Linked DNA regions of Homo sapiens: all the other regions are reported to be linked to region 7. Evidence: microRNA targets listed by miRTarBase, many of them from high-throughput screens and not tested one by one. Region 7 holds a microRNA gene; each other region holds the end of a gene's coding sequence.
Evidence for each region. The annotated mature microRNA hsa-miR-1914-3p reads GGAGGGGUCCCGCACUGGGAGG and lies in region 7 at 2,134-2,155, opposite strand. An mRNA with a match to its seed (bases 2 to 7 or 8) in the 3' UTR can be bound and repressed. Matches are read on the target gene's strand: a 7mer-m8 pairs with bases 2 to 8, a 7mer-A1 pairs with bases 2 to 7 and ends in A, and an 8mer does both.

Region 1 (4,158 bases), not on the chromosome of region 7:
TTGAGATGCATCAATGATAAAGGTTAGCCATCAGAAGGATTTTCTAGGAGGCAGCCCCTAGAAAGGAGGGAGGCAGAGGGAAGATGAGGTAGAGCTCCCACTTCCACTGCCCCCCCACCGCCCCCCGCCCCAAGCTCTCTGGCATGACTTGTAACCTATGAGGACGCAGGCTGCTCAGGCTCCTGGGGCAGCAGCTGGGAGCAGTGCCGCCTTATTAAGTGCAGAGCGCCCTGTGAAGGGGGAGGCCACAGTGCCTCCAGGTGCCCCCTGTCCCAGTTCCTTTAATTGCTGGGCAGAGGAGGCTCCAAAGAGGCACCCAATTCACAACAGATTAAGCAATGTGAAAGGAACTTAATTAGCCTCTTGTTTAATTTCCTCTTTTTGATGATGTTTAAACTAGTTCCAAAACTCCACGTCTATTCCTAGCCCATGCAGGCAATGGAAAATCCCTCACCACCTAAGCACCCATCTTCCCACCCCAGCAGCTCCCTCTGATGGCTTTGCTGGGCTCCGGATATTGGCTCCTCTGGGGGCATCTCTGCTTTATGGGCCCCAGAGGTAAATATTGACAAAGTGTACACAGGTCCAAGTTAGAGATGAACTGCATGCACAAAGACCTACTCTTGTGGGGGAGTGGAACGAGGAGGGTGCAGTGGAGGATGGAGAAGGGAGGGCTGGGCAGAGCAGGCGGCCTGGAGCTCCCCTTGGAACGGAGGGAAGGCAATGTTTTGGTGAGAACCTGGGCCCTGGCTCCCTGGAACACCAAGCCAAATGGCTTTGAAACTTCAGCAGGAGGGACAGAGGTTAAGACTGTGGGTTCCCAAAAGTGGGTTAGGGAGGGGACAGGGGACACAACGGTGAAAGATGTGAGGAAGAGGCCTAGCTCTCAGGAGTAGACACATCAGACAAATGCTTGTGCCCCATGTTCTGGGGCTGAAGGTGTGTGTGTGTGTGTGTGTGTGTGTGTGTGTGTGTGTGTGTGGAGGGGGTTGGTACGGGGTGGCAGAAGGGACAGCACTGCTTCAAAGAAAGCAGCGGGGGACTTCACACCCACTCTGGGCTGTGTCTCCAGGTTTCCATGTTCTCTGCTGACCAGCATCTCTCATTGGATCTGTGGGGCATTCTGGGAGAGCCTGCATTCCCCTTTCTTGGTGGTCTCTGCATGCTGTCTAATATCCTCACCCTACCCCCACCTACCTTCCTTCCCCACCTAAAGGTGCCACCCTCACAGCTCTGGGTCGGAGATACTTCCAGCTGACCTGGAAGACAGCTGCTGAGCCCTGTGTCCCTGTGTGTGAAATGTGAAGCCCTGGTGTTTTTTTTTTTTTCTTTTCTCCAGGCAGGGTCTTGCTCTGTCACCCAGGCTGGAGTGCTGGAGTGCAGTGGCACAATCTCGGCTCACTGCAACCTCTGCCTCCCGGGTTCAAGCAATTCTCCCACCTCAGCCTCCCAGGTAGCTGGGAATACAGGTGCCCGCCATCACGCCCGGCTAATTTTTGTATTTTTAGTAGAGATGGGGTTTCACCATGTTGGCCAGGCTGGTCTCGAACTCCTGGCCTCAAGTGATCCACCCAACTCAGCTTCCCAAAGTGCTGGGATTATAGGCGTGAGCCACTGCACCCAGCCAGCCCTGGTATTTTTAGGCAGAGTAGCCAAGAGAGAAAAGTGGTGGACTGGAACTAAGAAGGCCGGCCCCCTCCTGGCCTGGCAAGCTTCGTGCACCTAGGTTTCCCGGCCCATAAAATGAGAACAATTCCCCATTCTCAGGATCCCCGTAATGGCTGAGAAAGCACCTTGTAAAGGCTTGATGCTGGTGGATGAGAGTTACAGAAGGGGAGGGTGCTGGCTGCTCCCCCAGCCTGCTCCCCATGTGACTTCAATTCCTCTTTCTAGCTGAGGGCCTGAGCCCCCTTCTCCTGATCTGACCCCACAGGCTCCAACAGGGATGTGAATTCATACCAGCATTTATACAACCCTAGACTCTCACCTCCTCCCCTCCCCCACAGCCCCAAAGTAAGTACCAACTGGGAACAGGAAGTAAAACCAACTAAAACCAAGAACTGAAACCAGCTCATCTCTCACTGCCTCTCAAAGAGGGACAGTAAATGAGCAGCTCCTGTGACGGGTAACCCCAGGGCCCGACATCATGGAGATCAACAAGGGCCTAGTGGGGGATGGATCTGACAATGAATGACACTGGGGATGGGGGCAATAGGTGGAGGTGATTGCTGAGCATGGCATACAAATACGATGAACACACTTTTCCTGATACCGGAATTCCCAACATTGGAACCTGTGTGCCCCTTTGTTTTTATCCTTGTATTTGTGAATTAAAAAAACAAAAAAAAGATTTGCAGTGGTTACTTTTGTTAGTGCCCCCTCTCTTCAGTGAGGCAGAGGCTGTCCTTGCGGTGAGAGGAAAAGGCCCCTTTCAGAGGAACTTAGGTCACTGCCCGGCTCTCTACTACCATCCTCCTCAGAATTGGCAGACATTATGGAAGACAGTACCTTATGGAGTTCCAGGTTTTTAATTTTCCCTGAATTTTTTTTTTAAACAACAAAATTGGCAAGAAGAAAATTCTTCGACATTTGGGGGCTGGTCGACATTTGGGGGCAAGGGTTCCACTGAAAAATCCCCCAAATTCACGCTGAGGTTTCAGGTCATGGTTGCTGAGGTGGAAGATGAGGTCAGGGCTCTTGGAGATTTTCCAACCCACCCTAGAACTTGTTTCTAAATGGCTGGGGAAGAGGTCAGTATAGGTCCCCCCGTTACTGCAGATGAAGGCAGAAGTCATTCTCTCCCCCACCCCTCAACTTCTTCAGAGATGTGGAGATAGGAGGCTTCGATCTCTAATTGCCTACGATCTCTTAAAAATATAAAACACGTGCAGTTGACTTTGGTACAAAAAAGAAAACAAAAGAACAACAAAACATTCTGGTCCCTGTGGGTTTTTTCCCTCACCCCCAACAAACCATTATGGCCACCCCAACCTTTATTCCATCAACTCCAGGAAGCCAGGTTATCTCCCAGGGCTTCCATGAAGGACGGAGAAAGGGAGAACAGCAGTAAGAGGTTGAGGGGAGAGGAGAAAGGGACATGGCCCTGCCCACAGCCCTCCTTTATTTAAAGGGCAGTAGGGTGCTGTGGCTGCAGCCTCTCCTCCAAGACGGATGTTGCAGGGGAGGGCCGTTAGGGCAAGAACCCAGCAGCTGCGTGGATGAGCCTGAATATACCCCAGTAGTGTTCAAGGACAAGGCCCTCTGATCCCTATGGCTTGGTTCCCATGTCCCTGGTCCTTTAAATCTCCCCTCTCCCCCCATAACTAATAAACAATAAATAAATAAATTTTCCTAAAGTTGCGGGAAGAAGGCATGAACCACTGGCATCTGTGGTGTAGCTTTCGGATGTCCCAGGGGGTGTTGTGGCCTAATTCCCCTAGCTTCTTAAATGGCCCCAGGTATCCAAGGATCCCAAGAGCTGGCAAGGACAATTTGCAGTTCTTTCAAATGTTCCCTCATCATTGGCAAATTGGAGTCCCCAAGGTTAGCCCCCTCAGTAATGTTCTTCAGTGGGGCACGGGGCAGGGGGGAGGGGCCCCCTTAGCTCTCGGAGGCTACAGCCTCCCCGTCGCGGCTCTCCGTCTCCTCCGGGATGTCCTGCATTCTGGTAAAGTCTGAAGGGGGACAGGACAAAGCCAGTGAGTTAGCAGAGACTCCCATGAGGAACTGTACCCCTAGACTAATGCCTCCCCATCTGCAGGCTCAGGGGGCTCTGGGGCTGTGAAGGGATGACAGGGTTCTGTAAATTCTTGGGTGAGAGGAAAACCTTTGGCAACAAAGTAAGCAAGGTATCCATACCTAGGTACCGGATACACTTTTACAGTATCCAAAGATACAATTTGATTAGGAAAATACAAAATACTTTAAGGTTAAAGCTTTTGGTAATTTTTTATTTCATGAACCAACTGTAAAAACTTGAAGTTCTTTGAAACTTTTTTTACTTTAAAAACTGGCCCCATGGCTCGTGCTTATAATCCTAACACTTTGGGAGGCTAAGGTGGGAGAATCACTTAAGGCCAGGAGTTGGAGACCAGCCTGGCCAACATGGTGAAACCCCATCTCTACTAAAAATGCCAAAAATTAGCTATATGTGGTGGC
Region 2 (4,158 bases), not on the chromosome of region 7:
GTGATAGGCCCTGGTCTGACTCCAACACCCTCAATTGCAGCGTGAAGGAGGGTGCCAACAAGGAGGTGCTGGGAATCCTGGTGTCCTACAGGGTCAAGGTGAAGCTGGTGGTGTCTCGAGGCGGGTGAGTGTCATGGGGGAGCCTGGGTGGGGGTCACACTGGCTCTCTCTAGTCCCATGTCGTCGTCCTCTTCACGATGCCTCTCCCCTTCCCCAGGGATGTCTCTGTGGAGCTGCCTTTTGTTCTTATGCACCCCAAGCCCCACGACCACATCCCCCTCCCCAGACCCCAGTCAGGTGAGCACACTACCCACCCCAAGCCCTCAGAGGGAGGGCCTGAAGCAGGGCCAGTGGAGGAAAACTGGCCCTTCCAGCACCCACCCCCACACCCCCTCTTCCCGTCCCCCCAGCCGCTCCGGAGACAGATGTCCCTGTGGACACCAACCTCATTGAATTTGATACCAAGTAAGAAACTCATTCCCCTACTTGACCCTCTTGGGACAAAGATTCCTATAACATTCAAATCTGCCCTCATACCTCTTCCTTGCTTTTGGTGGGGAGAAGCGGATTGTAGCATCAAATCAAGATGCCTTAGCCTTGTGAGGCTGCCTCTTGCTGCCTTTTCTTTGTCCCTTCCTGTAAATACCTCTGGTCCCACTGCTGTTCGAACGCCTCTGTCCCAGAGGCCTAGCTTCGGGGAGGGCAGGGAGTGGGAGGCTGGGACAAGAGTCAGAAGCCCTCACCTCACAACCCTCTTTCCCACCACCAAGCTATGCCACAGATGATGACATTGTGTTTGAGGACTTTGCCCGGCTTCGGCTGAAGGGGATGAAGGATGACGACTATGATGATCAACTCTGCTAGGAAGCGGGGTGGGAAGAAGGGAGGGGATGGGGTTGGGAGAGGTGAGGGCAGGATTAAGATCCCCACTGTCAATGGGGGATTGTCCCAGCCCCTCTTCCCTTCCCCTCACCTGGAAGCTTCTTCAACCAATCCCTTCACACTCTCTCCCCCATCCCCCCAAGATACACACTGGACCCTCTCTTGCTGAATGTGGGCATTAATTTTTTGACTGCAGCTCTGCTTCTCCAGCCCCGCCGTGGGTGGCAAGCTGTGTTCATACCTAAATTTTCTGGAAGGGGACAGTGAAAAGAGGAGTGACAGGAGGGAAAGGGGGAGACAAAACTCCTACTCTCAACCTCACACCAACACCTCCCATTATCACTCTCTCTGCCCCCATTCCTTCAAGAGGAGACCCTTTGGGGACAAGGCCGTTTCTTTGTTTCTGAGCATAAAGAAGAAAATAAATCTTTTACTAAGCATGAGTGTGTGTTTTCTCTGTAGTGTTTAGAGAGTGTATGGTGTGCTTATCCATGATTCTGTTAGCTTGTGGGGGAGGACCCAGTCTCTCTTCTGCACCCAAAAGCCACCTGACACGGAGGCTATCAGCAAATGTTTATTGGATGACTGTGCTGTGGCTGTGTTCCAGGGTAAACATCAAAACTTGACTTAGTCCAAACTCAAGGGTGAGGCTTGATAAGGCCACAAAGTGAACTTAGTCATTTCTAGAGGTCACAGTAACTAAACTAACTCGCCTGCACACAGATGCTCACGGGAGCTAGCCAGGGCAGGCCCTTCCCTGTTGCGGCCGACGCACATGACCACCTGTGACCTGTTGTGACCGAGTCGCGTTCATTTCCACTGCTCCTTATGGCTGCTCGAGCCATCTGCTCCTGTGGCTCAGCGGTGCCACAACCGCAGGCCTCACCAGACAAGCCACGTGACGTCTCTGGAGTCTGGTACCTACATTCTAACACAGAAGCTGAGGCTTGGGCAGCAAGAACGTCATGCTGCCGTGGGCCCCTGTCCTAGGGACCACATCTTAGTGCTGTTCATGGGATATTCATCAGGGACTCCCTGAGGCTTGACCGAAGCCCCAGGCTGGGCTGGAGGGAGGTAGCATCACTCCACGAACATTTCTCACCTCCATCATCTGCTTCCACTCCTGAAGCCCAATCTTTCTCCTAAAGCTCCTTCATGCATTCCACAAACAATCTGGATTTGAGTCCCTACAAAGTACCAGGCATAGTATAGCAGTACAACAACAACAACAACAACAAAAACACATTAATTCATTCCCTTTTTTTTTTTTTTCTTTTGAGACAGAGTCTTGCTCTGTCGTCCAGGCTGGAGTGCAATGGTGCCATCTCGGCTCACTGTAACCTCCGCCTCCCAGGTACAAGTGATTCTCCTGCCTCAGCCTCCGGAGTAGCTGGGATTACAGGCGCCCGCCACAACTCCCGGCTAATTTTTGTATTTTTAGTGGAGATGGGGTTTCGCCATGTTGGTCAGGCTGTTCTCAAACTCCTCACCTCAAGTGGTCCACCCGCCTCGGCCTCCCAAAGTGCTGGGATTACAGGTGTGAGCCACCGCGCCAGGCCTCCCTAGTTATTTAACTACAATATCTTTGCTTCAGAGGAGAAGTACTGGAGCCAGGAGAACGCGTGACAGGGAGTTCTGAGCTAGGTTGGGTTTGGGGAAGATTTCCCTGAGAAAGTGACCTTTAAGCAGAGAAGTGAAAGATGAGGGGAGTTCGGGGACCGTCCAGGGATGAGCATTCTGGGCAATGGCAGTGTCGTGTGAAGGCAGGAGGAAACAACACATCTGGGACCTAAAGAGGCCAGAGAGACTGGGACAGAGACAGCCAGAGGCAAAGTAGTTCCTTCTGGCTGCTGAGCCAGATGGGGACAGCTCGCACAGGCCTTTAGTCTATGTTATGACTCGTGACTTCTAGTTAAATCGCCATTTACCCACAAGCTTTAAGTACTGCCAAAAGGCCCGTGACCTTGCTTACCCCGCCACGGCGGCAGCCTCCCCTGCAGAACCTGGACTTTCTCATGCGGAAGAACGGAAGAACCATCCCGCCTAATACCATCTCCAGCATCCCTCCGACTCCCGTGCACCTGCTCCTTGACCTCTAAGCCCAGGTATCTCAATTTTTTTTTTTTTTTTTTTGAGATGGAGTCTTGCTTTCTCACCCAGGCTGGAATGCAATGGTGCTATCTTGGCTCACTGCAACCTCTGCCTCCCAGGTTCAAGCAATTCTTCTGCCTCAGCTTCCCGAGTAACTGGGACTACAGGCACACGCCACCACGCCTGGCTAATTTTTGTATTTTTAGTAAAGACAAGGTTTCGCCATACTGGCCAGGCTGGTCTCGAACTCCTGACCTCCTGATCCGCCCACCTTGGCCCCCCAAAGTGCTGGGATTACAGGCGTGAGCCACCGCGCCTGGCCGATCTCAAATTTTTTTCAGGAGAATCAGAACCCTCGGGGTGCCATGGTAAAAATCCAGAGTTGGGCTCCACCTTTCCCGATTCTGAGTCACAAGGTCCCAAGAAGAATCCAAAAATCCGGATTTTTAATTAGTACACACTTTGAGAAACTGCCCTTTTTATTTATTTAATTAACTTATTTATTATTATCTTTTTTTGAGATGGAGTCTCACTTTGTCACCCAGGCTGGAGTGGAATGGCGCAATCTCAGCTCACTGCAACCTCCGCCTCCCGGGTTCAAGCCGTTCTCCTGCCTCAGCCTCCCGAGTAGCTGGGATTACAGGCACGTGCCACCATGCCTGGCTAATTTTTGTATTTTTATAGAGCCAAGGTCTCGCCATTGCACTCCAGCCTGGGCGACAAGAGCAAAACTCTCTCTCAATAAATAAATAAATAGTCTAATTCAATGGCATTTAGTATACTCACAATGTTGTACAACAATCCCCTCTGTCTACTTCCAAACATTTGGCTTCCTGTATTTTCAATAACAGATAAATTTTTTTAAATTGTCTTTCTTAAGGCCGGGCGCAGTGGCTCACACCTGTGATTTGTAATCCCAGCACTTTGGGAAGCCGAGGCGGGTGGATCGCCTGAGGTCAGGAGTTCGAGAACAGCCTGGCCAACATAGTGACACCCCGTCTCTACTAAAAATACAAAAAATTAGCTGAGCATGGTGGCGGGCGCCAGTAATCCCAGCTACTCGGGAGGCTGAGGCAGGAGAATCACTTGAACCCTGGAGGTGGAGGTTGCAGTGAGCTGAGATTGTGCCACTGCACTCCAGCCTGGGCAACAAGAACAAAACTCCATCTCAGAAAAAAAAAAAAA
Region 3 (3,983 bases), not on the chromosome of region 7:
GTGCTGGGGCCCTTCCCCTCCTGCCAGGCTCAGGCCCAGGCCCAGCTGCCGCTTGGAAATGGCGACCCCTGAATGGAGACCTGTCTTGCCAGATGCTGCACGGTCTCCTGGGCAGAGCAGGCGCTCTCTGTGCGGGGAGCTGACGGCTCACGGGCTTTCCACAAAAACCTCTCACCTCCTTCCAGGTTTTACAAAAGCCACCAGCTTCTCTTCTACAGCAGCAAAAGCCGCCATATTTCTTTCCTTTTTCTGTTGAAGCCTGGGGCCTTACGCCTTGGCAAGGTGTCAGCTTCCCTGAGAGGGGGACCCTGTGCCAGAAAGGGGTGCCAGCTTCCCTAAGAGGGGGACCCTCGGCTGGGGAGGGGCACCGGCTTCCCTGAGGGGGAACCCTGTGTCGGGGAGGGGCGCCAGCTTCCCTGAGAGGGGGACCCTGTGCCAGGGAGGGGTGCTGGCTTCCCTGAAGTGCCTAGGGTCCGAGCACTCACCTGCTCTGTGCTTTGGGTTTGTTTGTTTTTTGTTTTTTTTTTTGCTAATGGCAGTCCTCAGAGCCTCCGGAAGGGAAGGCATCAGGAAGGCTTGAGTTACAGGTGGTGGACCCTCAGAGCCAGCCTGCTCCAGAGCCCGGGCTCCCAGGCAGGAGCTGGGTAGCGCTGGGGTCCATGGATGTAGTTGAGCGAGTGGGGTTACGCCATCTTCCTCCAGCTCCAGCCAGAGACTCCCGAGAGCGGTCTGAAGCCCACATGGGTGGCCCCGGGCAGCAGGGTCTCCAGGCTGGCACGCAGGCTCCTGCGGTTCTGGGTACTCTGACGTTTCTCAGTGTTTATTCACAAGTCTCTCTGAGGGGCGGCAGGCTGTCTCTCGTCCCCTATGGCAGGAGGCTGTTTGGGAGTCGCATGTGCGGCATCTCTGGCAGGTGCACGGGAGCCGAGACTCCAGCAGACCAGGGTGGGGGCCGGAAGGGAGCTGCTCTCGCCTGACACCCCTCGTGGGCACCCGAGACAGGGAGGCACAGCATGGTGGCCGGGACGTCGTCACCACTGTGGGCTGGAACTGCAGCGTGCTCTGTGTGACACAGGCTGACTCAGGTTTTTCTTTTAAGGCAGGGCTTAAAGGAAGTTTTACTGTGACCAAAGTTCTGTGATTGAGGGGGTGTGGAGAAAACAAAAAGCCTGGCCAAGATGGTGAAACCCCGTCTCTACTAAAAATACAAAAACTAGCCGGGTGTGGTGGCAGGCGCCTGTAGTCCCAGCTACTCGGGAGGCTGAGGCAGGAGAATTGAACCCAGGAGGTGGAGGCTGCAGTGAGCTGAGATTGCGCCACTGTGCTCCATCCAGCCTGGGGGTCAGAGCAAGACTCCATCTCAAAAGCAAGCAAAAAACCCCCAAAAACCCACGAAGCCCCCAAAACAAACCACAGCTAATCCGAACCCAGAAAAATAGACTGGAACCTTCTGGCTTCTCCACACCCCCACCCCAAGCCCGTAAATGAGGTGGACAACCCTGCCTTTGCTCAGGCTCAGCCCTGAAGGGAACAGGAGGGAATCCACAAAAGTTCTGTTCACAGATCGAAGACAGGAGAGGGGGCATGGCCCCACGCCTACCCCCAACCCCACGCAGGGGCCCAGCTGGCGAGGGAGCTCACAGCAGCCTTTGGGGGAATGAAGCCACTGCCCCCGCCACTGGCTCAGCCTGGCAGGGCTCAGGGACCCTCCCAGGTCGGGCTCCTCCGCAGGGGACCCAGTGACCAGGACCCTGTTGATTCTGATGCACGGGCAGTGTCTGCTCTTCTGTGGGGGTTGTTTCTGTAGCTGCCACTCCCTCCCCAGCACCCAGGTACAGGGGACAGACAGCTCAGAAGGAAAAGGGTGAGGCGCCTCCATCAGCTCACCCTCCTGTCACGCCGGGGGCCAACAGTCTCCTGGAGCCACACTGGCTGGAGGGTCCTGGCAGGCATCCTCTGTGCCAAGATCCTCTGAGCAGAGGCCTCGCATCTCCATGCTTGCCTGAGCTGCCTTCCAGCCAGGACAGGGCTCTCAAAGCGCGGACCCTCACCAGCTGCAGCTGCCAGGGAACTGTGGGCAGGGGCACAAGCCAGCCAGCCACAAGCTGAAGCTCAGGGGCGTGCACAGCTGGCCACGGGGTCTGGCCACGGCTGCAGTGCTCAGATCCGTGGGGAGTGATGCTCCTGTTTCTCTCCAGCTCCTACAAGAGGCAGTAATTCCACAGCATTCCCGGTCTGTGCAAAGGCAGAGGACGAGGGGAACAGATAATTTGTTTCAAAATTAAAAGCTAACAACTTGGTAGGAAAAAGGTTTTCTTTTTTTTCAGACAGAGTCTGCTGTGGAGTAGGGTGGCGTGATCTCAGCTCACAGCAGCCTCCACCTCCTGGGTTCAAACGATTCTCCTGCCTCAGCCTCCGGAGTAGCTGGGACTACAGGCGCGCGCCACCACACCCAGCTAATTTTTGGTATTTTTAGTAGAGAGGGGATTTTGCCATGTTGGGCAGGCTGGTCTCAGACTCCCGCCTCGGCCTCCCACAGTGCTGGGATTACAGGCGTGAGCCACCACGTCTGTCCTGGGAGTAAGAAGGTCGTCGAGAGGGGCGACACTGTGTCAGTCCCACACACAGCCCCTCTCCTGGAGGGACGCACTGTACAAAGAGCATTTTAATTAATTTATTTATTTCTTTACACATAACTGAAAGTGATGTTACAGTACATAAGTTATTTACAACTGTGCAGTAATGTGTTGCAAAATAAATTATCTAGAAGGCAGCAAAAGTACATTGTGAAGGTATATAAAACTGTACAGCGTTTACGGATACACTTTTTATATGATTATTGGCTCTGTAGTGTTTCAAGTTACGTTCTCAGAAAGAGAAACAAAATGCCCAAGATTAAAGGAAAGAAGATACAAACCACGCGGATTTGACTCCATTTCAATACGGCTGGGAGTCCTGGCTCTGTGTCCCTCCGCCTGGCTCCGCACCAGGTCTGAAGCCCAGTCTGAGGCCGTCGCAGCTCGGCGGCAACAGAACCACGGCTGGGATGGGGCTCCTGCCCCTCCGACCTGCAGGTCACTGTTTGTGAGAGGTGGACACCTTAATTTTCTTTAGTTGATCAGAATGGAACAAAAAATTTTAAAAATGTACTCCGTTCTCCAACTCCTGAAATGCCTCTGCAGTTGCTGGAGAAAAGGGCCCGAAGGTCGCCGTTTTCAAACAGAAGCTGCCGTGTGTGCGCGCCCGGCATGGTCTCCTCATCCCGCCGGGGCCAGTGAGGCTCTGGGGGCTTTGCCCCCGCCGCGGCAGCTGGTAGAGAAGAGACGTGTTTCACCTCCCCGACGTCTGGACCAGTCTGGAAGGGATGGAGGCGCTGTGGCCAAGTGCAGTCTCTCTCGGGGTCTCTCCCCGCCCGGGTGGACAGGGCGCTCCCTCCTCCGCCCCTGGGGCTCAGCAGCAGTCCTGGGCAGCCGTGCGGCCCTCGCCTGCGTCCTGCGGCCGTCCCGCGGTGTCATGCCGGCAACAATACAAAGTCGTCGTTGACGTCGACCATGGGCACGTAGAAGGAGGGCACCTCGTTCACGCACAGGGACTTGTGCCCGGCGGGGTCCAGTTCCTGCACCTTCAGCTGCCACTCCATCCTCTGCACGGCGTTCAGGGCCGCGGCCTCGTGCTGCTGCCGCATGAGGAGGCAAGTCTGCGGGACACACAGCGGGGAGAGGAGGGAGGAGGAGTGAAGGGAGAGCCCCAGACTCTGCCGACCTCAGCTGCCAGCAGGGCCAAGGGCGTGATACGGCCGTGAACCTACCCTGGTATGGGCCAGGCCCAGCTGTACCCGCTCCTGGCATCTAGTTACTACACGTGGCGGTAGCGCCAGCTGTGCTACATGTCTGTCCCCATAACCGCTGTCTATGCCACCTCTACCCTGGCCTGGGGCTCACCCTGGCCCGGGGGCCCTGCCCTGCTCTGGGTGGGCCTGGGAC
Region 4 (4,158 bases), not on the chromosome of region 7:
GACTTCCCTACCACCGTGGAGCATCAGTGGGGGTGTAAGTGATCCCAGCCCTTCTATTTGCTTCCTCTCCAGCATTTCCCCCGTTTCCCGAGGGGCATCCAGCCGTGTTGCCTGGGGAGGACCCACCCCCCTATTCACCCTTAACTAGCCCGGACAGTGGGAGTGCCCCTATGATCACCTGCCGAGTCTGCCAATCTCTCATCAACGTGGAAGGCAAGATGCATCAGCATGTAGTCAAATGTGGTGTCTGCAATGAAGCCACCGTGAGTTACACATATCTATGAAATGGGCCCTGTTTCCTGGATCCTCTTTCTGATGTCTTGGTTCTAGACCCTGACCTTCCGGCTATTAGCCAAGTGCTTTTGATGATACCCAGGTTTCAGTTCCAGGTGTCTCACACAGCCATTTCCCCAGAAGCCACTCACCAAAGCTAATGTTCACTTTCTCTCACTTTTACACCTAGCCTAGTTCCTATTTGCAAATCTCATGATATAGTCTTTCTTTTATTTCTCCTTCCTGGTTAGCACCTTATTTTTCTGATCTCATAAAGTGTTTTTGGAGGGAAGTGGAGGGGATTGGGATTAGAGGTTTGCTTGCTGATGACCCTATTATTCTCTAGCCAATCAAGAATGCACCCCCAGGGAAAAAATATGTTCGATGCCCCTGTAACTGTCTCCTTATCTGCAAAGTGACATCCCAACGGATTGCATGCCCTCGGCCCTACTGGTAAGAGGCATAAGGTGGGGAAGGGCCTAAGTGGGGAACTGGAAAGTCAAAAAAGGATGAGCGTATACAGAGAATGTAAAGGTGAGAGAGCCTAGTGTTTATTTAGGAGAAAAGGCTTTGAAGCATGTGCCTCAGGAATGTTATAGCTGTCTTTCTCGTTTCTCAATAAAAATATTGAGATGAAATGATGTCGTTTCGGAGAATAGAGAGCCTTGGGGACTGGGTGTGTTATCCTGAGGTCGGAGGGGAATTGGGGACCTGAAGTTTAAACAGTGCTCTTTCTTTCTCAAGGATTCTTGAGGGTATACAGTTGGGGGACAGAGTATCTTAAGTACAGAGAAGTCGAGTGACTTAATAGACAGGGAGTGGGGGATGTGGAACAGGGACTGTGAAGATTTTTAGGATTAAAAATTTTTCAAACACAAGTTTGAAAATACAAGTCTTTTTCTTTTGTATAGCAAAAGAATCATCAACCTGGGGCCTGTGCATCCCGGACCTCTGAGTCCAGAACCCCAACCCATGGGTGTCAGGGTTATCTGTGGACATTGCAAGAATACTTTTCTGGTGAGGAAGGGGTATTGGGAAGGGGAGGGGAAAGGAGACTAAGAGTCATTTCGAGTATATTTCTTAGAGTAATGGTAATGACCCCTGAAAGGTCTGTCCTATGGGAACATGTTCTGCATCCCCACCCCAAGGTTCTCATTGAGGGAGACCCTGCTTGTGCTATTATTTTTGTTTTCTTTCTCCATAGTGGACAGAGTTCACAGACCGCACTTTGGCACGTTGTCCTCACTGCAGGAAAGTGTAAGTGATTAGGGATTGAGCTGGTAATTGATGTATGGAGTAAAAACTACAAGGCCATAGAAAGCATCCATTTCTATTTGCCTCCCCACAGGTCATCTATTGGGCGCAGATACCCACGTAAGAGATGTATCTGCTGCTTCTTGCTTGGCTTGCTTTTGGCAGTCACTGCCACTGGCCTTGCCGTGAGTACCCTTGCCCCAACCTCTTTCATTCTGCAGCCTCATCTCCATAGGCTAAGATTTGGGAAACTGCTACCCTAAAAAAAAGTGGAAGAAACTTGGGGGACTAGTTTGTTTTGTTTTAAGATATGGATGAGCTAAAGTGCAAAGTGGCTGATCAAACAGACTTTATTACTACTACAAGAGTGAAAAACAGCCTTCCTTTCTCTGTAGGATGAGGATAGGACAGTGAAATTCTTAATTTAAGAGTTGCTATTTTTCAAACCTGGCTCAGTTGTCAGATATTAAGAAAAACTGAGATACAGTGTGGGATGGGATGAGTATGTTACGCCTAAGGGAAGGAAGCTGATCAGCTCTGCCTTTAAGAAGGTCCCTGAGGGTGGCTACATGTGGATAAGGAACAAGGACTGAAGCGTGAGTTATTACTGTTCTTAGAACTAATAGGAGGTAGTGGAGACCAACATTAACCCCATCTTTCTTTTCTTCTCCCTCCTTATCTTCATCAGTTTGGCACATGGAAGCATGCACGGCGATATGGAGGCATCTATGCAGCCTGGGCATTTGTCATCCTGTTGGCTGTGCTGTGTTTGGGCCGGGCTCTTTATTGGGCCTGTATGAAGGTCAGCCACCCTGTCCAGAACTTCTCCTGAGCCTGATGACCCACAGACTGTGCCTGGCCCCTCCCTGGTGGGGACAGTGACACTACGAAGGGAGCTGGGGTAGTTAAAGGCTCCCGGGGCTTCTAGAAGGAAGCCAAGCAGCTGCCTTCCTTTTCCCTGGGGAGAGGTAGGAAGGAACCAGGCCCTCACTTAGGTTTGGAGGGGCAGATAAGAGCACTGCTGACCATCTGCTTTCCTCCAAGGGTTGCTGTGTCTAGGGTGAAGTAGGCAAAACGTTGCCCTTAAAACTGGGCCCTGAAGACGGTTCCAGCCTTGTCCTTCCTGTGTGCTCCCTGAGAGCCATTCCTGTCCCTTACACATTCCAGGGCAGGGTGGGGGTGGGTAGCCCTGGGGGTTCCCCTCCCTCTTGTGCACCATTAGGACTTTGCTGCTGCTATTGCACTTCACCAGAGGTTGGCTCTGGCCTCAGTACCCTCAGTCTCCTCTCCCCACATTGTGTCCTGTGGGGGTGGGGTCAGCCGCTGCTCTGTACAGAACCACAGGAACTGATGTGTATATAACTATTTAATGTGGGATATGTTCCCCTATTCCTGTATTTCCCTTAATTCCTCCTCCCGACCTTTTTTACCCCCCCAGTTGCAGTATTTAACTGGGCTGGGTAGGGTTGCTCAGTCTTTGGGGGAGGTTAGGGACTTATCCTGTGCTTGTAAATAAATAAGGTCATGACTCTACGCTTTTTCAGTTGTTAACTTGTGTGCATGAAAATATGAGGAAGAGAATGTGTAGCCCCACGAAGGGGTAAGACACGAAGACAGCAAGGCTGAAACTATGGCTCTTTATTTTCATGTGGATAATTCAAACAAAGTCATTAGTAGTCTTTGTTCAATTTTTTTTTAAAAAACAAAAAACCCTCAAATAAAAAATCTTGGGCTTAAAAGAACTCTATCACAGGAGCCTGGTTGGAGGATTCCTAGTTTTATACATGAGAAATAGAATGCAGATTTCTCTGAAGAGTGTTTAAAGAAGGAATGGTAGTTGAGGGGGCTTATTTCCCAGGCTCAAAGTGATTTAGGGGTGGTGTCACAGTGCTAGGTATAGGGTGATAGGACAGTGATCACTGCCGAGGGCCTTGGAACGGATCTTGCTGTCACACAATGCAGGTAACAGAGAGTGGGACAACAAAAAGTAATCAAGGCGCCAACCAACATTCTTGGATCGAGCATTCATCATATAAGTCCAAAAGGTGTAGGCATAGGGTGTGTTGGGGTAGAGGTGCCTAAAGCTGTCAGCCAGTGGCACAGCCTGCAGTAATTCCCCGAAGCCTTGGCGCTCTTGTGGCGTGAAGCCAGCATTCTTTTTGTTCCCCTTGGGGTTGCGAAGGTCAATTTCTTCATGTGCCACATTGAGGTCTCCACACAGCACAAGGGGCTTTCGGGAAGCCAGGCCCTTCAGGAACTTGCGAAAGGCTTCATCCCAGCGCTGCCGGTACTCCAGTCGTACCAGACCTCGGCCTGCATTAGGTACATATGCTGTTACCAGCACAAACGAGTCAAATTCAGCCACAATCACCCGGCCTTCCTGATCATGCTCCTCATCGCCTATAGAAATGAAACAGAATTAGCATAAAAAACTATAAGAAAAGGGAAAGCAATCAAGAGGTGGGGCAGAGATAGAGAATTAGCAATTGGTTTTGAAGAGTTCAGGCATTAGGCATCAATAGGGTCTCACCTATGCCGTAAGAAACTTTGAGTGGGCACTGGCGGGAAAGCAGGCCCACGCCACTGTACCCTTCCTTGTCCGAAGGAGCTGACCAGTATTGATGAGAGAGT
Region 5 (4,010 bases), not on the chromosome of region 7:
GAGCGGTAGCCCCAGCACGATGGCCACCGCAGCGAAGAAGAGGGCGGCGCGCTTGCCCCGGGCCACCTCTGAGGGCATGGGGAACCGACTGAGGCGCTGGAAACGGGCTAGGGTACCGGCCCCATCCCCGACGCGGAGAAGCCCCAACCACCGGCCTCCAGGGGCCCGCGTTCATTGGGATCTCCGTGCGAAGGGACCCGGCCCAAGCCTGAAGGGAATCTCGTCTGAAGAGACCCCCGAGCCCCCCGTCCGCGGGACCTCTCGCACACCACAATCCCCACCCCTGCTATTCCTCCCTTGCCATCAGCTAGCTGCAGGCCCCCCACCCGAAGCCCACCGCACCTAGGTGTGTAGCCGCAGCCCCGGCGGCCGCCATGCTAGCTTCCGGCTGCTCCGGCCACCGTGGGGGCAGAGCTTCGTGAGCCTCACCCAATCGGAATCTCTGCAACGAGGGGGCAGGACCGCGGCGGTGATCGGGGCCAATCGCGAGCGCTACTCCAGACCCGCAGACGGGAGCAAGCGGGCGAGGGGTGGGAGGGCTCCGCTGGGAGCTTCGCTGGGGATCTGAAAGGAAGTCACCCGGGCGCGGAGGGACAGCCTAGGGGCCGTGCGGGTTTCGGCGCTGCTGGAACGAAGTTCCCCGCTTCCCTGTAGAACACACTTCTAGCCCCGCAATCAAGAGCGCAACCTCTGCAGTCCTTAAATACTAGCTGGGCAACTACAGGCAGCTCCGAGGCTCATCTGAAAATGGAGATATTTACATAAATGAGGCCGTTCTTGTAAGGAGCCTGGCACACGGAAAGCCCTCAACGTCAACTGTCACGGTCTTATTATCCTTATCGTAGAACTCCTCTTAGGGTGCCCTCTCCTCAAAGCCTCAAACACGGAGGTAGCAAGCTAGTATGTTTTAGCACAATTGGCTCTCTCGCTATTTTAAAATACGTTTTAATTCATTTCCAACTTGGAAAACTCAGAATACTTCACTTAAAAATCTTGAAAAGTCATGAGCCCAGACTCTAGATGCTGATCACTGCGGTTCAAATCCTGGCTTCATCACTTATTAGGTGAGTGATCGTGAGAAGATCGTTCTGTGCCTATCTGTGCCTGTTTTCTCTATTAAAATAGGGATGATAGTAATAGTACCTACTTTATAGAGTTGTATGAAATGTGTCAGTACATATAAAGTGATTAGAACAGGGTTGGTGCTATGTGCAAGCTATTTTTGTTATTATAAAGTCAGGCCACACAGGGTGGAGCATTTGTAGCCTCCCCAGTTGACACAGAACACACGCAGCTTGTTATCTCTTCTTTTTATCTGCTTAGACCCAGGTTCTCAGCCTACCTCACAACCCAGCCCAGTGGTTAAAGTTCAGCATCAGGCCTCACCAGAGCTGTCCTTACCCAGACCCTCCAATTGGCTCCCTTTGTGCCCACTTCTACCCCAAATGAAAATGGGCCATAGCCCTTGGCAACCTCCTAGATGCCCTGCTCAGCCCTGGCAGCCCGCAGAGCCTTGGTTTTCCTCTTTGGGCGGGAGTCCAGGTGCTCGCTTGCCCTTACTGGTGTGGCTCACCCTAGTGGAAGGTACCAGGTCCCAGCTGGGCTTAACACTGCGAGATGGGAGAGACTCCCACCCACTCTTATCCCAGCCTGTCTTGCTGCCTCCCTGCTTTGAGCCTTGCACAAATCTGCCTTCAGGAGTTGCCAGTTTGGCCTCACTCCATACTTCTGTAGCTGCAGCCCAGTGCCACTGATGTGGCAGTCCCTAGAAGACTTGCAGTCTTCCTCATTGCCCCACTCCAGACTTGGACATCAAGAGAGCAAGAGCCTGAGCTGGGGATGGTGACTGCATGTGCCCTTCCTCCATAACTTGAAGCCCAGTAAGACTCAAATCCCACCCTCTCCACCTCCAGAGTCAGAGGGCCCAGAGATAGAATTAGCAGAGATCAGAAACTGGGAGGTGGGAATTTGATGTGTAAAACAGACAGGCAAAGTAGAATGTTTTGCTACCATTTATTTGCTGTATGGTATGTACTCAAGGCATGAGTCAGGGCTTCTGTACTACCCTCTGATCCCAGGAGACAGGGCAGGCAAGAAGGAGAGCCCAGGGAGAAGCTACCTCATCATGGGAAAATTGTGGGAGCTGGAAGAGGTAGGGGGAGACCCAGCCATCCTGTTCTGACTTCTAGCAATTTCTTCTGCCCTCAGTCATGAGGGGCTCCCTATCCTCCCATCCTATGGTCCCAGGTGCAGCAATGAGAGAGGGGAAGGGAAGAGAGAAAGGAAGACAAGTTGGTGCCAGGTGAAGGCATCTCTGCTCTGCATAGCTATTTGGCCCTGGCCATGACTACAAGCAAAAGTGGGTGCAGATGGCTGGGCCAAGGGCTGTGGTATGGAGTGGATACTCAGTAGGCATGGTTGGCAATGTAGAGTGACTGTGCTGCTGCTCCACCATCTTCTCCACTGCCTTCATACTTGCCCTGGGCTGCAAGCCCATTCACCTGCAAAAGGGAGCGTGGAGTAAGCAGGCTGAGCCAGCCCACAGGTGCCAAGCCCTGCCCAGGCTATAGCCTCTGGGTGCTGCCCCCACCCACCACCACCTGTAGCTCCCAACCTCAGCCCGCTTGATGAACTCCTCAGTGGCAGCCCCAGCATTGTCCCGTTGCCCTCGCCAGGCATTGAGTGCAGAGGCTTGCAGGGCACGCCCATAGGAGAAGGTAAGCGCCCAGGGTCGGGGAAGGGGGCAGCGGTTGATGGCATTGAGGTTGAATGATGCCTCTTCTTCGCTCTGACCCCCAGACAGGAAGGTCACTCCTAGTGTGGAGGAGAGAAGACAAACTGACTGGTCACTCCCAATTTTTCCAGGATAGGGAACCCCTGAAGGCCACAAGAAGGACCTGAAGATGGGCCTTAGGGATAGGAGCAGGTTAGGGAGCTGGGTAGTACCTGGGACAGCTGGGGGCACAGTGCGACGCAGGGCAGTGACAGTTGCCATGGCAATCTCCTCTGGGGTATACTTGATGGGACAGGCATGGCCCGGGGTCACCATGTTGGGCTTGAGCAGGGTCCCCTCCAGGTATACATGATGGTCACTCAGGGCCTTGTACACAGCAGCCAAGACCTGGGTGGGGATTAGAGGAGGTTTACTAAGGGTCTGGGCCCCCACTGGTTACTGCTCGATGCTCCCTATGTAGGGGTAGATGGGCACAGACTGTGAGGGCTCAGTACAGGCTCAGATCACAGGCCTGTGCCGGGATGAAGTGAAAAAGTGCTAGGGGAAAGTGTGCCTGGATCTAAGCTGGGGGTTCTGGGGAACAGACACTCCTGCCGAGCTGTCCCTGCAGTATGTTTGTGTGCCCAGGTGTGGACTCACCTTCTCTGTAACATACTGACAACGTTTGAGGTCGTGGTCTCCATCAGGCAATATTTCAGGTTCCACAATAGGCACAATGCCATTCTGCAGGCAAGAGCAGAGATGCTTGGGAGGGGCAGTAGGGGAGATGAAGAAAGCCTTGTGACTCTCTCCCCACCAGGCATACAGGGCACCTAGCTCACCACCCTCCCAACACACACACCTGCTGGCAGATACTGGCATAACGGGCCAGCACGTTGGCGTTCTCCAGAATGGCAAGTGCAGAGGGTGTACGCTCACTGATTTTCAGCACACAGCGCCACTTGGCAAAGTCAGCACCATCCTTCTTGTATTGGGCACAGCGTTCTGAGAGCCCATCCAGCCCTGCAAGCACAGTGCCAACCTCATTACTCTGCCCCTCTTTTACCAGCATCAACTATCTAACACCTCTTTGGTCCTCAAGCCCACCCATCCTATACCTTGAGTGGTGGTTTCTCCATCAGTCCCAGCTAGAGGCACCACACCCTTGTCAACCTGTAGAGGAAGTACAAGCAGAGGGTTGAATCCAGGCAGGATTCTCCTTGCTACCCCTCCTACACAAGCTTATTTTCACACCCAGCTTCCATTCAGAGCAGGGCCAGGGGCTGCACCTTGATGC
Region 6 (4,158 bases), not on the chromosome of region 7:
AAAAATTAGCTGGGTGTGCTGGCATGTACCTGTAGTCCCAGCTACTCTGGAGGCTGAGGCAGGAGAATTGCTTGAACCAGGGAGTTGGAGGTTGCGGTGAGCCGAGATCGCGCCACTGCACTCCAGCTTGGTGACAGAGTGAGACTCTGTCTCAAAAAAAAGAAAAAGAAAGGTCTGTAACTCGAACATCATTTGGTGGGCTAAGTGCTTTACTTGCAGGGTCATTTAATCCTCATTTCAACCCCTTTTATAATTGAGGCGACAGGCCCAAGGTCCCTCTCCCGGGATGTTTTGGAAGAACAGTTCAAACCTTGGTTTTGGTGGGTGTAGAATCTGTTTCTTACTTTGGAGCCATCTGGTAGTACAACAGCCATGGTGTCCTAACATAGCCAACCTAGCCATGGCTAACCTCCATGTCCTCGTCAGACCCCAGACCCAGACATCATCAGGTTTTGAACTCCCTTAGTCTGGCTCCAGAGCATGTGCCATAACGCAAAATTGCAAGGTTAGTACTGTCCAGTCCTTTGATCCGCAGCAGTGTGTGGAAGAGGCAGATAGAGGAGCATTTGAGTCTGGGTGTTTTTGGAGGCTTCTCATACCTGATTGGTCCCTATAATTATGAGGAAGAGAGGGATGGACATGGTTGGAGTGTAGGCATCAGCGGAAGTCAGATCCTGCCCAGACCAGCTCCCCATCCTCTGCCTATGCTATCAGCCTTGACGCACCCTTCCTCAGCACACTGGGCATCCAGGAGAAGTACCTGGCACCCTCGAACCAGTCAGTGGAGCAGGAAGCCATGCAGCTGTAGCAACAAGGTGGACCCTGGAGAGCAGGATGCATAATCCAGCACTGGGGAAAGTGGAGGCTCCTGATGCAGGCTGCAGACCCAAGAGCAAGTCCTCCCAGCCAGAGCTGGCGGGCTGGCAAGGGGATATTCAGCTCTGCAAAGGACTTCTGGCCAAAAAGCCAGACATGGTGCCAAGCAGAACACCCCCCATACTGTCAGTGGTGTCCGTGAGCTCTGGGCCCTGCCACCAGAAAGTCGAGCACTGGTCCTAGTCAGGCTGTGATGAAATGTGCTACAATACAAGAGTTTATTTTCTACTTTTTGTGACTTCCAAACTTTTCTTCAGTCTTCCGGGCCCAGGGGTTTGGGGAAGAATGAGGGAGTGTCACCTAGCCTTGGAATAATCAGTATTTCCCCAAAGCATATAATTCACATTCAGTCACATAGGATTTACATTCAGTCTCCAGTCATGTGTTTTTATTAATCTTCAGTTTTTGGTTCTGAGGTTTGTTTTTTAAAAGATGGGGTCTTGCTATATGGCCCAGGCTGGACTCAAACTCCTGGGCTCATGTGATCTTCCCGCCTCAGACGCCTGAGTAACTGGGACTACAGGTGTGAGCCACCATGTCCCACAATTTTCAGTTTTAACAGAGCCTCAAGCTTCAGCTTTCACAGGCAACACTTCCTAACTAGAACTTTGTTAATGTTTTATATTCACTGTATTTGTTTTATGGTTTTATTCTATTGTTGACAAGTGTTAACTAGTTTTCCATTTACAGTAGTGGTTAAAAGTTTACTTCAAGGCTGGGTGCGGTGGCTCACGCCTGTAATCCCAGCACTTTGGGAGGCCGAGGCAGGCGGATCCCAAGGTCAAGAGATCGAGACCATCCTGGCCAACATGGTGAAACCCCATCTCTACCAAAAAATTTTTTTAATTAGCTGGGCATAGGTGGCGCGTACCTGTAGTTCCAGCTACTTGGGAGGCTGAGGCAGGAGAATCATTTGAACCCAGGAGTCAGAGGTTACAGTGAGCTGAGATTGCACCACTGCACTCCAGCCTGGTGACAGAGCGAGACTTTGTCTCAAAAAAAAGGTGTACTTCAAAAATGAAATACAAGGCTGGGCGTGTTCACTCATGCCTGTAAGCCCAGCACTTTGGGAGGCTGAGGCGGGCGGATCACCTGAGGTCAGGAGTTCGAGACCAGCCTGGCCAACATGGTGAAACCCCTCTCTACTAAAAACATAAAAATTAGCTGGGCATGGTGTTGCACGCCTATAATCCCAGCTATTGGGGAGGCTGAGGCAGAAGAATTGCTTGAACCCAGGAGGCGGAGGTTGCAGTGAGCCAAGATTGTGCCTACATTCCAACCTGGGCGACAGAGCAAGACTCTGTCTCAAAAAAAAATAGTAAGTTGTGTAAAGAAAAATATTAATTATATAATATGGCAGTTCCTATGAGAGTGTGGCAAAAATCAAGAGGGCTTGGAAGTTTTTTCTTTGCTCTTGCAACTGGCTGGATGCAGTTCATATATTTTTCAACCAGTAGGTGGCACCCCAACCTAATTTTTTGCAGTTGTAACCTGGTGGCAGAAGGGGCAGGACTGATGGCTTGGGCAAGACTGTTATGCCAAGTTTTATTTGCATGTATTTGGACTTTCTTTTTTTGGAGACAAAGTCTCTCTCTGTCGCCCAGGCTGGAGTCCAGTGGCACAATCTCGGCTCACTGCAACCTCCGCCTCCCAGGTTCAAGCAATTCTCTGCCTCAGCCTCCCGAGTAGCTGGGATTACAGGCGCCTACCACATGCCCGGCTAATTTTTGTATTTTTAGTAAAGACGGGGTTTCACCATGTTGTTCAGGCTGGTCTTGAACTACTGACCTCATGATTTACCCGCCTTGGCCTCCCAAAGTGCTGGGATTACAGGCGTGAGCCACTGCACCCGGCCACATTTGGACTTATTAACACATATGAAGTGCTTGGTATTTTAGAGTGCTTCCACACACACAATCCTCATTAGAGATAGACAGGATGGGGAGAATTAATAAGCCATTGCCCGTGTTACAGTGAGGAAGCAGAAAGATGAGAAGTTTGAACTTTGGTCAGCCTGGCTTTCTCATAACCCATTTTGCTGACTAAATTGCGAGTATCCCTCCTTTGGTATATTTATTGGTGAGAAGTCACAGCCCTTGTCCCACAGGTTTTGCAGCCAATCAGGAGAAAGAAATTAGGCACCTGTAAAGTATTACTGAATCATAGATAGTTCACCAGTGGTTTGGGCAGTTGGCAAATTAATTTAGGGACATCTGTTCTGAAACAGCATTGAAATAGGACTGACTGCTTTGCTTTCTGGTTGTGGCAGCCAGAGCCAAAGGCAGATGAATGAGGGGCTATGAGGAGGCTACTGTGGCTGGAACAGTATGAAAGCAACCTCAGCTCCCACGCCTGGCTGTAAAGGGGATAATAACTGGGTGCTGCTTCCCAGCCTCTTTCATCTGAGAAGTTCAAAGCACCTCACCCCTATTAACACCCCACAGAGTAGGTAGGAAGTACCAATAGAGCAAGCCAGGAAAACTGAGGCCAGGAGGCACAGCCTGGGGCTAGCTGTGAATCACCTGTGGGGCCTAGAGCCCAGGAATCCTGACGCCCAGGCTACTGGACAAATCCTTTATCAGGGCATTAGGGTGGGTGCTATGCTTTTGAAAGCAGTACCAACGGCTGTGGTCGTGGGTTTTGATGCTTGCCACTCACAGAGGCCCCAGCTCTCACCATAACAAACCAAATGGGGGCTGGAAGGCATCCTTTACAACTTTATGGTCTCGTATGCAAGCACCCTCAGCATTCTCTGCACCCATGGAGTGGAGATGGGTGGGAGTAATCCAAGGCCTTTATTTTCAGGCCATGGTTTGACAGCAAGGGTATTTTCTTCCCCAATAAACGTAGCTTCTGTCTACCTTCCACTGGCAGCAAAATGATTTTCTGTTCTCTGCATATACTGAGGGGATCTGCACAGTGCAGAAAGGAAGATGTCCGAGATCCAAGTGAGGCCTGTTCAGTGTGAAATGTCTAGGGTAGAAGAAAGACCATCCTCCATTATGGCTGGCATGTGGCAGTCATCCTTAAGATTATTTTTAAATTTCCTAATAAATATAGGAAAGTAAAAAACTTAGAAAATGAAAGAGAAGGCCGAGCACGGTGGCTCACGCCTGTAATCCCAGCACTTTGGGAGGCCAAGGCGGGCTGATCACCTGAGGTCAGGAGTGTAAGACAAGCCTGACCAACATGGTGAAAACCTGTCTCTGCTAAAAATACAAAAAAATGAGCAGGGCATGGTGGCATGCGCCTGTAATTCCAGCTACTTAGGAGACTGAGGCA
Region 7 (4,158 bases):
AGCGAGGCGGGCCCTGAGCAGCAGTGGCTCCGGGCTCGTGGGCCCCGGGTGGCCCCGCCTCCAAGCGCAGGCCCCCACTTCCGCCCTGGTCTGCCTCCTGGCTTTGCTGCCTCCAGCGACTTGTCCTGACGGGAAGGACCCTCCCCCCCCCCAACTGTGGGGAGGACCCTGATGGTACAAATTTGTGGGTGGGGGCAAAACAGCCTGCCTCTTGTGAGACCCAGAGCACCAGGGGGCCCTGTCCCCTCCCTAGGTCCAGGCCAGGTGGCCACCAAGCTATGGGTTCTAGGGGCCCCATCTAGCAGAGCTAGGAGCTGCAGGGCCCAGTTCTACCCCTTCCTTCATCTGGCACAAGTGCAAGACTGGGAATGCTTGGTCCTGCAGGGGAGAAGGCAGGGCCCTCAGCTCCCTCCCTCCCTCCCCATGGGAGTCTCCACAAATGCATGCCTCAGCCAGGACACCTCTCCTGTGCTGTAACCAATCACACCTTCATTTTTCTAAAGCTTTATTTATTTTATAAAATGCATAGAATAAATTATACTAGTAACATTTTAAAAATTAACATCTTTGTATTCAGCAGTCCTGGGTCAGGAGGCAGGAGGAGGGTGGTGGGGACGGGATGGCTCACTGGGCAGCTAACCCGTGTAGGCCACTTCCTCCTCGTCACTGCCATCGGGGACCGCGTCTGTCCCAAAGTAGCGGTCGCCAAAGTTCCCTGGAAAAAGGGGGGGGGGGGTCCAGTGTGGTGGGGCCTCCCAGGGCCACCCACCCTGCCCTCATGTGCGGCTGAAGGGCCCGGGCAGCCTCACCAATGCCTGGGATGATGCGGAAAAGGTCATTGACCCGCTTGTCCACCGCCGTGGTGATGATTCTCACTCGCGGAAATGCATAGGCCACTGAGTGCACGCCCATCTCTGCCATGAGCAGCGACAGCAAAAAGATCTTGTCCTCAGGCACGTCGTGGTCCTACCGAGTGTATTGGGCAGGTAAATCCCACCTCTGCCTGAACCTGCCCCGCCTACCCAGGGCTCACTCACCAGGAGCACGCGCACTGCCATCATGGCCGCCGCGCCCGTGGACACGGTGCAGTCCATGAGGATCACGTGGTCATCGCTGATGTCCTTGGGCAGCCTCAGGTAGTGGAGCTGCGGGCAGCAGGGGTCAGGCTGCAGGTGGGGCTCCCTGCGTCCCCTTGCTGTGAGCTCCCTCTGCCCCCTACCCCCGGGCTCATCACCCCGGCTGCCCCCAGGCACCTCGGGCTCCCCGGTAAGCTGGTTGGTCTGGATGAGGATGGTGCCGATGCGCACGTCTTTGCACACAGCGCGCAGCGCGGGCTCCATGGTTTCACCGGCGCGCAGAATGGACACACCGGTGATCTGCGGGGAGGGGAGGCTAAGCGCCCACATCCCGCCCCAGCAGCCTGTCCCGCGCCCAGGTGTGCCCAGGCAGGTACCTGCTTCCCCGCATAGCACTTGCCCGCATAGTCCTGCCCCTGCGGGGTCTGTACGACGCAGTCCTGTGGGGTGCAGGGTGAGGACTCCGGTGAGCGCAGGGAGCTCGCACCGGCTCCAAGACCCACCCTCCACCTCGCGGGCTACGGGCTACGAACCTGAAAGGGCAGGAAGGAGAGCGCGTGCTCGATGAGCAGCCGCATCAGTCTCTTGGAGTAGAAGATGAACTCGTCGCGACTGGTCTCCTTGTCCCTGTGGGGCCAACAGTTGAGCGGGAGCACGCGCCCGGGGCCGCCCCGTCCCCAGGTGGGCCCTCACCTGATGATGGTGTGCATGCCCCGTACCTGCGGCGTGCTCTTCAGGACGCTCAGCGTCCGGGGCAGCGGGTGGCACTGGTGTGCCGAGGCCAGCGCAGCCCTGGGGACAAACCGATGGGGAACACTCAAGAAGGGGGTCTTTTCCCAGAGCCCTCCCTCCCCACAGGACGGCTGTGCGTCACTGTGAGGGGAACACACGGGCCAGGCACAGCACGAGGTGCAGAGCGGGCCTGACTTCTGCCTGGGGCTGAGCTGGGGGGAGACGTCGCCCTACCTGAGCTGTCAGGCAAAGGCGAAAGATGGCGGCGAACAACGGGGCAAGCTCACCATCAGGCAGAAAGCTAGCGGGGTAGGCTGTGAGGGCCCCTCCCAGTGCGGGACCCCTCCTGCGCTAAGAGGAAGCAGAAGTGGGCCGGGCACAGGGCGGGCTCACACGTGCTGATAGGTGTCATACCCCAGAATGGGTAGCTTGTCCCCAGCCTCTCCCCGGGGGAACTAAAGCTTTGTGGGGTCAGGCCCCGCCCTGGCTCCTCCCCGAGGTGGTGCGCGGCCCCTCAAGAGAGGGGGGTGGGGGGCAAAGCTGGCTCAGTGTCTCTTGGCTGTCCCGTCCCGCCCCGCTGCCCAAGCCTGGGGATGGCCGGGGCAGCAGCAGGTCTAGGAGCGGGCAGGAAAAGGGCGGGGTGGAGGCAAGAAAGAGGTGGGACAGGGAGGAGGCAAAGCCGGAAAGGGGCATGACAGGGGCAGGGAATGGGGCGGGGCAGGAAAGGGGGTGATGCAGGGGCAGGAAGAGGAAAGCGACAGGCCACAGAATTGGGTGTGGCAGGGGAAGGAAAGAGGCAGGGCACGGAATTGGGTGTGGCAGGGCAGAAAAGAGGCGTGACAGCGGCAGGGAAAGGGGCGGGGCCGGGAATGGGGTGTGGCAGGGCAGAAAAGAGGCGTGACAGCGGCAGGGAAAGGGGCGGGGCCGGGAATGGGGTGTGGCAGGGCAGAAAAGAGGCGTGACAGCGGCAGGGAAAGGGGCGGGGCCGGGAATGGGGTGTGGCAGGGCAGAAAAGAGGCGTGACAGCGGCAGGGAAAGGGGCGGGGCCGGGAATGGGGTGTGGCAGGGCAGAAAAGAGGCGTGACAGCGGCAGGGAAAGGGGCGGGGCCGGGAATGGGGTGTGGCAGGGCAGAAAAGAGGCGTGACAGCGGCAGGGAAAGGGGCGGGGCCGGAAATGGGGTGTGGCAGGGCAGAAAAGAGGCGTGACAGCGGCAGGGAAAGGGGCGGGGCAGGAGCAGGAAAGAGGGCCTAGCGGGAGCAGCGGGGCAAGGGGCTACGGGAAGGCGGGTCACACAGCAGCACCACGGAGCACACTGCTCACATATCCCAACGTAGCTTCCTCTGCTTGCCAGGTGAAGAGCATGTTCAGGGAGGGAACAAGGCAGGAAACGGGGGTTTACAGAGAGAAGGAAGAGAACAAAGAGAAGGCTGCTTAGTTGGGGAGCAGGGCGTTCCCCGCAGGCCTGAGGAGGAGTGTGGGCGGTCAGGCCCCCAGCCCTGCCTGACCCTCCCTCCTGCCCCCGACCAAGGCTTCCTGGGGCTGAAGGAAGTGAGTGCAGCCACAGGCCAACACTTCCTTGGCTGACCAGACGACGGAAAATGTGTCTGGCTGCGTTCAGGTGTTTTTCCAAGTTTGAAACCCTGGAAAGTTTTTCCTCTCAGAACAAAAGCTTCAGGAGGAACCTGACGGGACAAGACCTGCGGGTTCCTAGGCCGAGGAGAGGGCCAAGCGGAGACTCATGCAGGCACCGGAAGCTGGACGGCTGGTGGACGGGCCCTGGAGGCATTTCCAACATTTGGCAAACTCTTTGGAGGGCTCTGAATGTGAGGGCTCTCCCTCCAGGTGGCTCAGTCAGGAGCCTCCCAACCCACAGAAGGCAGGGAGAAGGGCAGGTCCCTTGTGGCTGACCCCCCTGCATGCCTGCCCTTGGGGAGGGACAGTGGGATGCGGCCCCGGCCCAGCCCAAGCTTCTTGCTGCAGTTGCCCAGTTCCTGCTGGCAGAGCTGTGCGGGCTGCGAGGACAGAGCTGGGGCAAGCAGGACCCGGGTGGGTGGGAGGACAGGCGCGAGGCCCTCCACCTGCAACCAGGGAAAGCTGACTGGTCCGTGAGGCTGGGCACAGGAGGTACAGCAGGCTCCCTGGCTGCTGGGACATGTCTGTAGTCACTGCCCCAGAGGCCTGGCAGTGCTGGCTCAGGAGGACAGCTGTGCTCTCTGGGGTCAAATCCCATAGACAGACTCAGGAGTCAGGGGAGCCTCCAGCAAAGTCTGGCCAGGACAGGGTCAGGACTCCGTGACGCTGGGCAAGCTACTTCACGTCTCTGTGCCTCAGTGTCCTCATCTGCCAGCA

Region 1: the mRNA of ARHGEF2 is a reported target of hsa-miR-1914-3p. Seed matches in the 3' UTR shown: 7mer-A1 at 3,076-3,082.
Region 2: the mRNA of ARRB2 is a reported target of hsa-miR-1914-3p. Seed matches in the 3' UTR shown: 7mer-A1 at 966-972.
Region 3: miRTarBase lists ANKRD11 as a target of hsa-miR-1914-3p. The part of its 3' UTR that is shown has no 7-base or 8-base seed match.
Region 4: the mRNA of APEX1 is a reported target of hsa-miR-1914-3p. Seed matches in the 3' UTR shown: 7mer-A1 at 3,366-3,372.
Region 5: the mRNA of ALDOC is a reported target of hsa-miR-1914-3p. Seed matches in the 3' UTR shown: 7mer-A1 at 2,212-2,218.
Region 6: the mRNA of GPN2 is a reported target of hsa-miR-1914-3p. Seed matches in the 3' UTR shown: 7mer-m8 at 2,011-2,017.

Annotation. Positions count from the first base shown.
Region 1 is chr1:155,944,342-155,948,499 of GRCh38, forward strand. ARHGEF2 (Rho/Rac guanine nucleotide exchange factor 2) reads right to left here. Exons shown (of 22, transcript NM_001162383.2): 22 at 2,513-3,674. The coding sequence ends at 3,601. Among named protein-coding and RNA genes, the nearest start is that of RXFP4, 4.8 kb to the left of the region's middle.
Region 2 is chr17:4,720,176-4,724,333 of GRCh38, forward strand. ARRB2 (arrestin beta 2) reads left to right here. Exons shown (of 15, transcript NM_004313.4): 12 at 41-124; 13 at 218-297; 14 at 411-465; 15 at 771-1,322. The coding sequence ends at 864. Among named protein-coding and RNA genes, the nearest start is that of MED11, 9.2 kb to the right of the region's middle.
Region 3 is chr16:89,264,967-89,268,949 of GRCh38, forward strand. It overlaps ANKRD11 (ankyrin repeat domain containing 11), which reads right to left. Exons shown (of 13, transcript NM_013275.6): 13 at 2,664-3,697. The coding sequence ends at 3,512. Among named protein-coding and RNA genes, the nearest start is that of ZNF778, 49 kb to the left of the region's middle.
Region 4 is chr14:20,456,760-20,460,917 of GRCh38, reverse strand. It overlaps APEX1 (apurinic/apyrimidinic endodeoxyribonuclease 1), which reads right to left. Exons shown (of 5, transcript NM_001641.4): 4 at 4,058-4,158; 5 at 3,151-3,927. The coding sequence ends at 3,410. PIP4P1 (phosphatidylinositol-4,5-bisphosphate 4-phosphatase 1) reads left to right here. Exons shown (of 7, transcript NM_144568.4): 2 at 73-263; 3 at 620-726; 4 at 1,185-1,290; 5 at 1,478-1,530; 6 at 1,622-1,712; 7 at 2,216-3,237. The coding sequence ends at 2,359. Among named protein-coding and RNA genes, the nearest start is that of PIP4P1, 2.6 kb to the left of the region's middle. RefSeq lists silencers at 1-29, 3,534-3,828 and an enhancer at 1-164.
Region 5 is chr17:28,571,121-28,575,130 of GRCh38, forward strand. It overlaps ALDOC (aldolase, fructose-bisphosphate C), which reads right to left. Exons shown (of 9, transcript NM_005165.3): 3 at 4,003-4,010; 4 at 3,832-3,886; 5 at 3,576-3,736; 6 at 3,374-3,457; 7 at 2,947-3,121; 8 at 2,615-2,814; 9 at 2,000-2,501. The coding sequence ends at 2,406. PIGS (phosphatidylinositol glycan anchor biosynthesis class S) reads right to left here and starts at 404. Exons shown (of 12, transcript NM_033198.4): 1 at 343-404; 2 at 1-68. The coding sequence starts at 376. RefSeq lists enhancers at 1-44, 735-784.
Region 6 is chr1:26,876,327-26,880,484 of GRCh38, reverse strand. GPN2 (GPN-loop GTPase 2) reads left to right here. Exons shown (of 5, transcript NM_018066.4): 5 at 736-4,158. The coding sequence ends at 808. It overlaps GPN2-AS1 (GPN2 antisense RNA 1), which reads right to left. Exons shown (of 2, transcript NR_199049.1): 2 at 2,240-2,367. Among named protein-coding and RNA genes, the nearest start is that of GPN2-AS1, 2.3 kb to the right of the region's middle.
Region 7 is chr20:63,939,341-63,943,498 of GRCh38, forward strand. It overlaps MIR1914 (microRNA 1914), which reads right to left and starts at 2,204; the gene lies at 2,125-2,204. It overlaps UCKL1 (uridine-cytidine kinase 1 like 1), which reads right to left. Exons shown (of 15, transcript NM_017859.4): 9 at 1,770-1,868; 10 at 1,610-1,703; 11 at 1,454-1,516; 12 at 1,254-1,376; 13 at 1,038-1,145; 14 at 810-966; 15 at 489-715. The coding sequence ends at 636. MIR647 (microRNA 647) reads right to left here and starts at 3,386; the gene lies at 3,291-3,386. RefSeq lists enhancers at 2,978-3,691, 3,692-4,158.